Linked DNA regions of Homo sapiens. The protein of the gene in region 3 purifies or fractionates together with the protein of the main gene of each other region. This does not show direct contact. Each region holds a gene or a part of one and is shown on either strand. Other genes may lie near its edges.

Region 1 (3,500 bases), on a different chromosome or scaffold from region 3:
TATTTTCCATGCCAGAATTATCAGATGCAGGAGTAAAATTCTAGCACATGAGCAAGGACTCTACATCTATTGGTTACAAATGACATCATGCTTTCTAAAGAATCATGCTCATTTTTCCTGTTTCTACCAAATTGCATAGTCTGGAGCTCCCTCTCCTGGATTAACATGATTTTATCAATTTCTTCATACTATAAACCAGAGAGGCAGAATTTATCCACAGCAACAAATCATTTAATGAATGTTTATGACTTTTCTTTCTTATTAAAGGGGACATTCTTTTATCCCAACATATAAAGTCGTTGAACTCCATCAAACAATAAGGAGAACCTCACAGATAAAAGGAAGAAGGTGTCATTAAACACATTACCTTTCGGCTGGAAAAATGGGCGTGTTTGCCCAATTTACTGTTAAGTGCTTCAAGAAACATTTCATCGGTGACTTTGCCGACATTCATGCAAGCATCATCAAGGATTGCAATGATCCCTTTGTGCTGTTGCTCCACGAGGTCAACAATGATCTGATTGTTGAAGTAGTCAATCTGTAGGACACAGCAAGGAGGGAATTCTGAAGAGAACAGTGACCAGGCCAGGTTAAACCCTGATGCTCCCATTTGTATCAGGAGTTCAGGTAAAACTACTTTGGTGTCAAATGTGTGAATAACATTAAAGAGGTCTTACGCTAAAAAGAGTACACATTCTAACAGAGGTTTATTTTTAAATTTCTTTGTTAACTTTCTATCATGAAATACACCGTCTGAGATTAGTACAGCCCAAGGCAAAGATAATAAGGTAGACACCATTTCTCCCATTACAAACTCATTTTAATCCTGCCTCCAGATCCCACACCCAACCCTACTCCTTCATACCAATCTGCCTGCCATTAACTGTAAGGTCCACCTTCCACAAAGGGCCAACAAATAACCTTAAAGTATTATCTGATATACTACTTCATAATAAAGTTAAGGTACTACACAAAACTTGCAATTTTATAAAAGTAGGGTACAAGTTAAATGTTTAGTTCTAGAAATTTTGTGCAATATGTTCATAACGATGGCTGCAGTTGCCACAAAGTGCCTCGTTTACCTTTAAATACTGTTAATGTGTCACGCATGCAGATGGAAGGGGTGGAACTGTGCACTAAAGTGGGGGCTTTAACTGTAGTGTTTGGCAGAGTTGCCTTCTACCTGCCAGTTCAAAAGTTCTGTTTTCATGCAGAATATATATACTAAAAAATTTCAGTCTTTTAAACAGCCTTACTCTGATTCAGCCTCTTCAGATACTCTTGTGCTGTGCAGTAGTGGCTCTATGTGTAAATGCCATGCACTGAGGGTACACAAAAATATCAACATTATGTGTACAGGATAATGCCTCATCCCAATCAGATGTCCATTTGTCATTGTGTTTGTTAACAACCCTTTATCTCTTAGTGTTAAATAAACTCCACTTAAAACGGAAAAAAAAAAAAAAGAACTTGCATTTTTAGTTACATGACCCTGAATGACTAAAATCCAAAAGAGCATTTCTTTTGGTTTCCCCAAAGTTAAAAAGCTTCAATAGAATTTTGAACAATTTGAAAAAATTCAGTAGAATTTTTACATTTTTCTAGGCATAATATAAAGAATTTAATTCTGAGAAATAAATATCTATAAAAGATAAGAAAAAGCTTTTCCTTTACTTCCACAAGGTGAATGAAGTTATAAATAACTTCTGGCTTTTCAGCAACTATACATGTACAAGGTTTGTCCAACAATCCTCTGCCACACCTGTTTATTCTGACAGCCTGCAATGTACCTATCACTACACACAGAAGGCACACAAAGAAAGGCCAACTCAGGCAAGCTGCACATCTCAAAGAGGGGCAGCTTATGATCACACAGTTTAATCTTGCTATGTCCCATCTTACGCAGGAGTTACCTAAACTGATTGCTGTCTCCATTACCTTCTATAAGGTCTATATACTCATAATAGACCATTCAAGTGACTCATGTATTCCCATTTCATGCTTTAAAATCCAAGGTTTTATGCCAGTTATTTGTACATGGCTTTTAGCTCCATTTCTAGTCTTGCATGTTCTCTTCTGTATCTTATGGACTGAAACCTGTAAACTGGGTAGTTTTTACTTTGTTTTTTATACTTTTCTGATCTGTCTAAACTAAAGTTTCTCAAATAGGGGAATAGGGGGAATTTTGCTCACCAGGGGACATTTGGCAATATCAGGAGACATTTCTAGTCAAAATGGGGTAGGGGTGCTACTGTCATTTGGTGGGTAGAGGCCAGGGGTGCTGCTAAACATCCTACAATGCATAGAACAGCCTCCACAACAAAGAACTATCTGGCACAAAATCTCAGTAGTACTGAGGTGAAGCAGTGTAGGTCTAAATATTTACTTTCATTATGGGCATTTATTACATTTCTAATTAGGGAGAAAAGTTATTTCCATCTTTGGAAAAAAAATCCTAAAAATACTCAAAAAGCAGGAGCTCTATATTAATAGTTGACATCTTAGACTTCGGGACTGTGAAATTAAAGACGAAGTCTTTTGTCCCAGGGACTAAAGAATTACCTTCCCTAAAATCCCAATTATATTATTAAAAGCTATTGGTCTCTGCTAGTAACTTTCAGTTTGTAAGTTTAATACTGCTTCAAACATTGCTTAAACCAGTAGTTTTCAAACTAAGTTCTTCCAGCAACTTGGCATTCCCGTAAGGTTTCCTAAGGGATACCAGGAGCCAGAAGACTTGTGATGGGGTAGCTTAGGGACATGGGGCTCTGGCCTTTCATACCCACTCCAGATAAAACAGCTTTGTGCTTGAGTATCAAGTTCTCAATAGTTAAAATGATTTGCAAACTACAGCATCGAAAGCTTTTAAAAGTGAATGTACCAGATAACCAGACATTATGAACCTCCTGGTGGAAGTTCACACACAGTCTATGAAATGGGCTGTGGAAAAAAACTGACTCTGAATCCAGTCAAGACTCTAGATCTAACAACCAATATACAGGACATACAAGAAACAGAGAAACATATTAAATGGCACCTGAGGAATGCAATTAGCAAAATCCAGACTGTGGGGAACTCCATAACAAATGACTCATTCTCTTCAACACAAGATTGCAAAGAGAGATCATTCAAGGAAAAAAAGAAACATGGAGAAAATCTATAGATATGCAAGAGACCTATCAATCAATCATAATGTAAGAAACTTATTTGGATCCAAATTTAACCTGCAAAACAACAACCAGAAGACAATTAAGGAAATATGAAACATGTATACTGACTGGATATTTTATGATATTAAGGAATTTTTGTTAATGTTTTAGGTATGATAATGGCATTGTGATTATGGTTTTTGTAAAACTCTCTTAGAGAAATACATGGAAATATTTACTGAATAGATACCCAATTGAATAGATGAAATAATGTGATATCTGAAATTTGCTTCAAAATAATCTGGGAGTAGGTGGGTATAGTACAGATGGCATAAGACTGGCAATCAACTG
Region 2 (3,500 bases), on a different chromosome or scaffold from region 3:
CTTGGGTTCTGTATTCCTCATAAAGGTCAACTTTGACTCGAGAGAAAATAAGTTCTATCGGCACTGCCTCCCCCAGCAGACTGTACACAATCACATGCTGCAGAACGATGTTTTGGACAATGATGAACCGGATACACGACAGTGGTCTCCTAAGATGATCATGGAGCTGAAAACTTCATCGAGAGCTGTCATAACACCACAGTGCAATTACTCTATTTTTAAAATAAATGTACTGCAGCCTCAGTGTGCCATGTTGATAAAGTCTGCAGTCATGTACAGCAATGTCCTAGGCCTTCACATTCACTCAGCGCTCACTCACTGACTCACCCAGAGCAGCTTCCAGTCCTGCAAGCTCCGTTCATGGTGAGTGCCCAATAGAGGTGTGCCATTTTAAATCTTTTCTATCATTTTTACCGTACCTTTTCTATCATATTTTTACTGGACTTTTGTGTGGATATGTTTAGATACACAAGTACTTATTAGCACTGTGTTCCAACTGCCTACAGTATTCAGGACAGTAACATGCTGTACAAGTGTGTGGCCTAGATGCAATCAGCCCAGCGTCTGGTCTAGGTGTATAGCAGGCTCTACCATCTAGTTTGTGTCCATACACTCTATGATGTTTGTACGAGGATAAAATAACTTCACAATGCATTTCCCAGAATGTGTCCTCATCGTTAAACAACACACGACTGTACTCCAAAAGGGCAGAAAGGCTTACACGTCTTGGTGCCCACCCCGGGAGCTTGGCCCAGCTGCCTGGTATTCAGAGTCCCACAGTCAATGGTGGATGAATTAATGCTTGCACAGATGGAGACAAGTCATCATTGAGTGACCATTATGCACAAACTGCACATGTTACAAGTCTAAAAGATTATCAGGATATTTGATAAGGTTTAAAAAATTCAATGGTGCCTGTATCTTTAGAAATCTATACAAGTAGAGACTTACAGAGAAAATTCAGTAAATGAACCTAAAATCTTGAGAAATTTCTGTTTGAGTTCACTTTCAATGAGTGTATCAACATAATATTATATAAATATTTTCTGTAACTAAAATCAGCTTTTTGTGGGAACACTCTCTTACTTTGATGAACTTGGAATTTTGGTCCTCGAGAAGCAGAATCTCCTCTTCCATCTTCTTGATCTTGGCCTCTGCTGTCACCTTTTCCAGCTGCAGCTTTTGCCGAGCCCCTTCCTCCTCGTCTAGCTGTTCTTCCAGGTCCTTGTGAAGAACACACAGTCAGTCTCGCCACTTTCTCGAGATTTGACCACACATTCATTGTGCACAGGAATGCATTACAATGAGATACTAATTTTTTTTTTTTTTTTGACACGGAGTCTCGCTCTGTTGCCCAGGCTGAAGTGCAGTGGTGCCACCTCGGCTCGCTGCAACCTCCACCTCCTGGGTTCACGCCATTCTCCTGCCTCAGCCTCCCGAGTAGCTGGGACTACAGGTGCCCGCCACCACGCCCGGCTAATTTTTTGATTTTTTTTTTGGTAGAGATGGGGTTTCACCATGTTAGCCAGGATGGTCTTGATCTCCTGACCTCATGATCCATCCGCCTCAGCCTAGATACTAATTTTTGATTCTCAAAATGCCAAGGATATTTAAAAAAATATGAAATGCAGTTATGTGAAATAGACATTTGTATCCGCTACAGGCTAAAGTACAAACTGGGTCAATCCTTCTAGAAGCCAACATGGCAAAACATAGCTTTAAAAATGAGCCTTTCCTTTCAACCAGCAATTTCAGGAAATTGTCACAGATGCAATTTATATAAAAAGACATACAGTGATAAGTTATTTATAATATTGAGTAACTATGAACATGCTACAAAAAGGTCTTGGTAATTAAATGTTGGCACATTTGTTAAATGGAATAATATATAGTAATTAAAATTCACATTTTGGAATAATAGCAACACAGACAAACATGAATAATGTAGTAGCACTCATCAAATGTGTATTTAATTTAGCTGAATCCAACTATATACATGTTCGGCCAAAGAAGAGAGAAAGAGAACATGAAAACAATAATTTAAATAGTACAGGTCGTGAGAAATGAGCTGTCTCAGTTCAAGTGTACCTTTCACAGCAGAAGCACCTCATCAAACTGGGCGGGAGCATAGAGTTTACATGTATTTTTATTAGAACGTGCAGATCTTTATAATCTACATTACTGTTTATGATAAACATGCTATTACACAGGATCACAGATAGATTACCCCATTTTATATGAGGTGATTATTACACACTACATGCCTGTATCAAAACATCTCATGTACCCCATATATATATATATATATATATATATATATATATATATATATATACACACATACATACATACACACACACACACTTAATATATACGCATAAAAATTAAAATTAAAAACAAAGTGTTACAGCTCTTTTAGAATTTGTCTAGCAGGATTTCTGGTTTCTGGTGGAAAGCTCCCATCCCCTCCAAAAAACGAAATTAAAAAAAAAGTTAAACAAAACAAAACCCAGGCTGGGCGCAGTGGCTCACGCCTGTAGTCCTAGCACTTTGGGAGGCCGAGGTGGGTGGATCACCTGAGGTCAAGAGTTCGAGACCAGCCTGGCCAACGTGGTGAAACCTCGTCTCTACTAAAAATACAAAAATTAGCTGGGCGTGGTAGCAGGCGCCTGTAATCCCAGCTACTGGGGAGGCTGAGGCAAGGGAATCACTTGAACCGAGGAGGTGGAGGTTGCAGTGAGCCGAGATTGCGCCATTGCACTCCAGCCTGGGCAACAAAGCGAGACTCCGTCTCAAAAACAGAACAAAAAAACAAAAACAAAAACAAACCCCAAAAAACCAAAACTAGGGTTGTACAAATCAACACATGGCCAACTTAAGGAAATGTTCAAGAGTAACTTCGGCTAAATAATTTACTCATCGTTAATTTTAGAATGAAACCATGGCAAAAAATGAGTGTTTTCTTGTAAAAATTTCAAACACACATACAAGCACACAGACCAGCATAATAAGCCCCACACAGAAGCATCACCTTGACCTTAACAAGCATCAACTCATGGTCAATTCCATTTCATGTGTGCCTCCACCTGCTCCCTTCTCCCCCTAGGTTATTTTGAAGCAAATCCCAGACATCATATTTCACTTGTAAAACCTTCAGGCTGTACCTCTAAAATATAAAGACCATTTAAAAAGCACATTTGTCTGTTTCAATCACAATCCAAAAATTGTGCCTCATGAGTACAGCCTGTATTTCAAAAAGAAAGTTAAGTACCAGGGAAGGGCTAATTTTTAAAAATTCTCATTCTGACTGTTGGCCACCTCCTATGTCAGTGCTGAGCGTTTCTTATTAGCCAAACCACGTAGTAGATGTCTATCTAATGAATGGAGTGAGCAACAGAATCACTGACAACATGAAGAACAAGTTAGGTCTTCTACAGAATGCTATAGATCCTGGGAGGTTTGCGACTGTGAATCTCTTTGCAAACTGTAAGATGCCACTT
Region 3 (3,500 bases):
GTGCCCTCCCAGGCTGGACACATTCTTAGTGGGTGCTCTAGAAAGACATTGTGAATCGGCTAGAATCACTTTTTATTGACCTGCAGGGAGGAAGGAAAATCTTAGGGGTTTGGGATTGTCTTCTGATGAATAGAGACTTCCTTGCAATATACATAATGGTAGGTTCAATTAATACAAGGGAGAGAGTTCATTTCACAGCTTGCGCTGAACATTCGGCTCCTTTTCCCAAATCTGCCTGTTGGCTTCATGCAGTTTTACTATTTGCAAGTCTTGACTGTTCTCTGAGCCAGCAGTAAACACAGTGATAGCAGGTGTGGCAACTGGATCTTAGATATTTTTCCTACCAGGCTCATTTTTAAGATACTCTGGGGGCCTTCTTTTTTTCGAGATGGAGTCTCACTCTGTCCCCCAGGCTGGAGTTCAGTGGTGTAATCTCAGCTCACTGCAACCTCCGCCTCCTAGATTCAAGTGATTCTCCTGCCTCAGCCTTCCTAATAGCTGGAATTACAGGCGCACGCCACCACACCTGGCTGATTTTTGTATTTTTAGTAGAGATGGGGTTTCACCATGTTGGCCAGGCTGGCCTTGAACTCCTGAGCTCAAGTGATCCACCCACTTTGGCCTCCCAAAGTGCAGGGATTATAGGCGTGAGCCACTGTGCCTGGCCTTCGGGGGCCTTGTCATCGTAAATACTCTTTTTTTTTTGAAACAGAGTCTCGCTCGGTCGCCAGGCTGGAGTGCAGTGGGGTGATCTCAGCTCACTGCAACCTCCGCCTCCCGGGTTCAAGCGATTCTCCTGCCTCAGCTTCCCAAGTAGCTGGGATTACAGGCGCCTGCCACCACGCCCAGCTAATTTTTGTATTTTTAGTAGAGACGGGGTTTCACCATGTTGGCCCTCGTGATCCACCCACTTCCGCCTCCCAAAGTGCTGGGATTACAGGCATGAGCCACCACGCCTGGCCCATAAATACTCTTTTATCTTTTCTTCTTCATCTTTGATGAGAAAGGTAACATTTGAGTCTTTCCATGAATATCTTCAAGGCAAACCCTCGAGTCTTGGTGGATGCTTTCCATGTGCCAGGCCTGTGCTGGGCCACCAGCAGACTGAGTCTTAGGCCTCTGCAAGCCCAAGATAATAGTACTAAATAATAACGATGGCGATGTTCTTTTTTTTCTTTTTCTTTCTTTTTTTTTTTTAAGATGGAGTCTCATTCTGTCACCCAGGCTGGAGTGCAGTGGCGTGATCTCGGCTCACTGCAACCTCCCCCTCCTGGGCTCAAGCAATTCTCCTGCCTCAGCCTCCCGAGTAACTGGGACTACAGATGCACACCACCATGCCTGGCTAATTTTGTATTTTTGGTAGAGATGGGGTTTCACCATGTTGGCCAGGCTGGTCTCGAACTCCTGGCCTCAGGTGATCCACCCACTTTGGCCTCCCAAAGTGCTGGGATTACAGGCGTGAGCCACCACGCTTGGCCAGGCAATGTTAATTTCACATCTTGAGTCTTTTCCATGTGTCAGAAACTGAGAATGCTGTGCACTAGGAATGCAGGTGCTCATTCAGTCTTGGAAATGTCCCCATTGTATAGACCAAGAGATGAGACAGCCATCCCTGTGGTAAAGCCAGGCTCCCAACTCAGAGCTGCCCTGGCTGTGCATGGGAACTGGTTTTATGAGGCAGAAGAGCCAGATGTGTGTCTCTGTTAGAGACACAGCCTGTCCATGAGGGCCAGGCAAATGCTAAGGAGGCACTGGTAGGGGTCATGGGTGGGGCACTGAGGGCGTTTGGGTGAACAGAGAGCAGGCCCTGGATGATGGGCGAGGTTTGGAGAAGTGGAGGCACCCCCAGGTGATGGGGGAGAAATGGAGCAGGCAGAAAAAAGATGGAGGGAGAGAGAGGCCAGAAGACACACAGGCTCTGTCCCTTGACAGCAGCTGGGACCACAGGGTGGGGATTGTCTGTTGCTTGGTAGTGGATGAGGATGTCCGGGTTCCTGGCACCTGGGCAGCTGGGCATGGTTCTCAGCATCTAAAAGGTGGATAGATGGATGAAGAGACTAGGAGAGAAAGAGAACACATACACACATGTGCGCACACACACACACAGATGGACACACATGCACACACATGCACACAGATGGACACACACGTACACATACACACACAGACGTACACACATGCGCGCACACACAGAAGGACACACCCATGCACACACACACATGCACACACACAGAAGGACACACACACAGATGGACACACGCACATACACATACACACATGCACACACAAGCACGCACACACAGGACACACACACGCACATACACATATACACATGCACATACGCTCACACATGCGCACACACGCGCACGCACGTGCACACACACAGAGATGGGGAGCAAGAGAGAGAGGGAGGGAGAGAGAGAAAAGTAGCTCTGGAGAAACACAGATACTGAGAAAGAGAAAGAAACTCACAAGGGAGGGAAATAGATATCTACCAATAGATACAAAAGAAGGAGATGGAGCCAAGGAGACCGAGGCAACAAGAAAAGAGAGGGAGCCAGGGAGAGAGACAGAGGAGGAGGAAAGGCTAAGAAAACCGCTGAGACAGAGGCAAGGAGGGAAAGAGACAGCAGCACACGCAGAGAGCGATGGAGAGAGGCAGAGACGAACAGGGACAGAGAGAGAGAGAACGAGATGGAGAGAGAGAAATGTGGGGGAGATGGGGAGAGGCCACAGACAAAAAGGGAGGACAGAGTTAAAAAGAGATGGGAGGAAGGGGAGGGAGAGAGATGGGGAGAGGCAGAGGTGAACAGAGATGAGAGGGAAATAGAGAATAAGTGAGGAACAGAGAGACAGAGATGGAGAGGAACGGGAGCAAGGAGAGAGAGAGAAAAGGGGGTGGGGAGAGATAGGGAGAGGCAGAGATGAGCAGAGACAGAGACAGAGGGGGCGAACAGACAGAACAAGATGGAAAGGGGTGGGAGAAAGGAGAGAGAGAGATGGGGAGAGAGAGGTGAACAGAGACAAGAGGGAAATAGAAACTAAGAGAAGGACAAGGGAAAGGAGAGAGAGAAACGGTGACGGGAGAGGGGAAAAAATTAGCTCTGGAGAAACACAGGTATTGAGAGAGAAAAAGAAAGAAACTCACAAGGGAGGGAGATGGAGATCTACCAGGATATAACAGGACATGGAGACACGTCCAGACATGGGGAGAGGCAAGAGCCAAACAGAGACAAAAAGGGAGGGACAGAGATAGAAAGAGATGGGGGGAAGGAGAGAGAGAAATGGGGGGAGAGAGATGGGGAGAGGCAGAGATGAACAGAGACAAGAGGGAGGTTGAGAGAAACTAAGAGAGGGACGGAAAGGAGAGAGAAATGAGGAGGAGAGAAGTGGGGGAGAGGCAGAGATGAACAGAGACAGAACAAGATGGAGAGGGAAAGAGAGAAATGGGGGGAAACGGAGAACTCGGGGGAGAGAGATGGGGAAAGGCAGACATGAAG
Region 4 (3,500 bases), on a different chromosome or scaffold from region 3:
ACCACCCCACTCCCAATCTTTCATCAACTTTATTGAGGTATAATATACTTGAAAAGTCCCTCATTTTAAGTGTACAGTTTGATGAGTTTTGACACATATATTCTGTCATGTAACCACCGCCACAAACAAGATGCAGAACATTTCCATCACCCCAAAAGTTCCCTTGTGCTTTGTCTCTTATCTTCCCCAACATCTTCAGGGAGTTTACTGGAGTTATGCTTGCTCATTAGGGCAGAAGGAAGTTTTTTCTTTTTGGTTTTTCCGAAATGAATGCTATGGTTCCACCTTAGCCCAACCAATAGAGATACTTATTACAAAGGCCTGGCATTGGAGATCATGGCTGTGGAGTTTCATTTTCAGTGGGAGGCGGAAGTGGATATAAAAGGAGTTTAGATGATTTTTGTTTAATCTTTCCTTCACACACTGACCACTTTGCCTTTATTAATGATGTCTGCCTTTGATGCCTTCTGAAATGCCCTTTGGTTAATTTTGCCCTTTAACGGTTCCTCTTCCCCATCTGTCTTGGTTGTAACATCAGTCTGAGTTTGTGCTGATACAACCTAAACTTTGCAGAAACTTATCCCTGGCTCTTCATGCCTCAGGCATTCTCCATTTCTCTTCTAAGCCCTCCTCACTTGGAATTCTTTTTAACTAGCAGGCATTAGCGTTAAATATCTCCTTGTACAGCAAAGGCTTTTTGCCAATTGTAGAACTTAGGGATGATGTAATTATTTTTTGATTTCAAAATAATGGTTCTAAACTTGATTGAAATCAAGGGAGAAGTGCATTGTACATAATGCACTAAGTGTTCATGAGGACCATGTATCTACCTCCTGTGGCCTAATGTACTACTGTGGCCAAAAATGTGGGCAAGATGCTGGGCTAGAGGGAGACTGGATGCACAAAAAAGATAGGTTTTGTCCATCTTTTGTCACATATACAAAAACATATAGTCCTGGCCAGGAATCCTGCATGTGTGGTTGGGGTTTCTACTTCTTGACAAATGTACATGAAACTAGAGAAATTTCAGAATAGGAGAAGTAAAATGATCAGGGCAGTGAAGAGGCTAGACAGATTAAAGGTGTCGAACTCTCTAGTTTAGAAAGATGAAGGTGAGCTGGGAATACAGTAGAGGTTTTTTTTTTTTTTTTTTGAGACAGAGTCTCGCTCTGTCACCCAGGCTGGAGTGCAGTGGCGTGATCTCAGCTCACTGCAACCTCTGCCTCCTGTGTTCAATCGATTCTTCTGCCTCAGCCTCCCGAGTAGCTGGGACTACAGGCATGTGCCACCACCCCTGGCTAATTTTTGTATTTTTAGTAGCGATGGGGTTTCACAGTACTGGCCAGGCGGGTCTCGAACTCCTGACCATGTGATACGCCTGCCTCGGCCTCCCAAAGTGCTGAGATTACTGGCGTGAACCACTGTGCCCAGCCCTATAGTAGACTCTTTGACATCCAGAATAGTGGAAGTTTGTAACATCAAATCTCAGTTTAGTAGGGATATGTTTTAGATCTTGAAACAAATCAATATATGCCATTTTAAATGAATTTCTACTTTAAACATTTACATTTTACATTTCTGAAACTCATCACTTCAAGTTATGGTATTAGCTGAGGTACAGGATGTAAATAGAGAGGGTCTGGGTAATTTATGGATGAGAGGTTTGGCACATTGACTTACCAAACCTCTCTTTAACAGTGTTAGTCAGTTTACCAGCCACAGCTGTTTTAGTTGGAAGAAACAGAAACCCAAACTCAAAGCCAAAGAGGAGTTTATTTGCTCATGTGACTTAAAAATCTAGGCATGGCTGGAATCAAGGCTCAGACATGGTCATTGGGGCTCTCTTCACTGACTCTCACATGCTGTCTGACATTGGTTTCATCCTGAGGGCAGCTTTTTTTAGGGGTGAAAAGATGGTCAGTGGCACCTGCAGATCACATGATCTTACAGCACTGGGCCTGGAGGAAGAGAGCCTGATAGAGGAATTCTGGTCATGTGCCTTCTCCTTTCATTGGGCCTCTAGGCAGTAGGTGAGGAGCACCATGAGTGGTCAAGTCTGTGCTCACCCCAGAGACCAGGGGGAGGACAGGGCACTGTGATTGATAGTCCTACTCCAACCTCATGGGATGGCTGTGAGCTGTTCGCCATTGGAAGGAAAAGTGCTAGGTAGTCAAAATAAACAACTACCCTCAGTCCATGTATGCTATGAATAGGTCACTGAAAATGATAGTCATGGAATTCTACCCCTCCTTTTCTGATCTTTGAGCAAGAAGAATGGGAAATTTTGCTTGACCGGGGACATTAGGTATCTTTCCCCTAGAGAATCATTTTGGATTGAAAAATAGAAGCCAGGCCAGGTGCGGTGGCTCATGCCTGTAATCCTCAGCACTTTGGGAGGCCAAGGCGGGCGGATCATGAGGTCAGGAGCTTGAGACCAGCTTGGCTAACACGGTGAAACCCTGTCTCTACTAAAAATACAAAAATTAGCCGGGCGTGGTGGCGTGTGCCTGTAATCCCAGCTACTCAGGAGGCCGAGGCAGGAGAATCGCTTGAACCCGGGAAGCAGAGGTTCCAGTGAGTTGAGATCGTGCCGGTGCACTCCAGCCTGGGCGACAAAGCAAGACTCTGTCTCAAAAAAAAAAGCCATGGAGCGTCTGTGCAAGCAAATGTTACTAATAGCATGTTAGAAATTGAAATTTTGAAAATTTATTCAGTCTTCAATTTTGATTTTTCATGTATTATTATTATTATTATTATTATTATTTTTTTTAGACAAGGTCTCGTTCTGTTGCCCACACTAGAGTGCAGTAGCGCAAGCATAGCTCACTGCAGCCTCGAACTCCTGGGCTCAAGCAGCCCTCCCAGCTCAGCCTCCTGAGTAACCGGGACTGTAAGCGCATGCCACCATGCCTGGCTAATTTTTTAATTTTTGTAGAGACAGAGTCTCACTTTGTTTCTCAGACTAGTCTCAAACTTTTGGCTTCAAGCAATCTCCCACTTAATTATCCCAAAAGTGCTGAGATTATAGGCGGGAGCTACCATGCCCGGCCATTATTCAGTCTTAATTTGGGGGCTATGAACCCTATGTCACCTTTCTTACTGATTTCTTTCTACCGTATTTCCTCAGCATTTTATTTCCCCTATTTTCTTCACATCCTTGCTTGCATACGTTATTCTCTTCCCCTATTTTCATACATAGATAAGTTGCACGATTTCTTATTGCACAACAGTAAGAATTGTGCACAATTTCTTTTTGCCTGTCCGTCATTCCTTGTTCATGTCTAGTGGTAGTCTGTCTTCTGTTCTCTTCCTTCCACCTGTTCATCTGCTTTATCCCCCTACTATTTAATTTTATCTACCCACCCCTTATGCCCTGTTATGATTTGTTATAACGAAGTATATATACATCCCACACCTATAATGGAATAAAATAAGTTACTAAAGGGTGAATCTTTTTTTCATAACTTAGATTGAGGAGGGAACTTCATTTTTGTTTTTGC

What was found. Proteins that work in one complex are often made in the same cells at the same time.
Region 1: the proteins of SLC8A2 (region 3) and MYO1D purify together in Homo sapiens (affinity purification with mass spectrometry; one large-scale study listed by BioGRID and IntAct). This does not show direct contact.
Region 2: the proteins of SLC8A2 (region 3) and MYH10 purify together in Homo sapiens (affinity purification with mass spectrometry; one large-scale study listed by BioGRID and IntAct). This does not show direct contact.
Region 4: the proteins of SLC8A2 (region 3) and MYO5A purify together in Homo sapiens (affinity purification with mass spectrometry; one large-scale study listed by BioGRID and IntAct). This does not show direct contact.

The regions. Positions count from the first base shown.
Region 1 is NC_000017.11:32,755,125-32,758,624, forward strand, and holds part of MYO1D (unconventional myosin-Id), read right to left. Parts: intron 539-3,500; coding exon 368-538; intron 1-367. UniProt on the Homo sapiens protein: Unconventional myosin that functions as actin-based motor protein with ATPase activity. Plays a role in endosomal protein trafficking, and especially in the transfer of cargo proteins from early to recycling endosomes.
Region 2 is NC_000017.11:8,508,726-8,512,225, forward strand, and holds part of MYH10 (myosin-10), read right to left. Parts: intron 2,461-3,500; exon of another isoform or gene 2,401-2,460; intron 1,225-2,400; coding exon 1,087-1,224; intron 364-1,086; exon of another isoform or gene 26-363; intron 1-25. UniProt on the Homo sapiens protein: Cellular myosin that appears to play a role in cytokinesis, cell shape, and specialized functions such as secretion and capping. Involved with LARP6 in the stabilization of type I collagen mRNAs for CO1A1 and CO1A2.
Region 3 is NC_000019.10:47,458,394-47,461,893, reverse strand, and holds part of SLC8A2 (sodium/calcium exchanger 2 precursor), read left to right. Parts: intron 1-3,500. UniProt on the Homo sapiens protein: Mediates the electrogenic exchange of Ca(2+) against Na(+) ions across the cell membrane, and thereby contributes to the regulation of cytoplasmic Ca(2+) levels and Ca(2+)-dependent cellular processes.
Region 4 is NC_000015.10:52,518,881-52,522,380, reverse strand, and holds part of MYO5A (unconventional myosin-Va), read left to right. Parts: intron 1-3,500. UniProt on the Homo sapiens protein: Processive actin-based motor that can move in large steps approximating the 36-nm pseudo-repeat of the actin filament. Can hydrolyze ATP in the presence of actin, which is essential for its function as a motor protein. Involved in melanosome transport.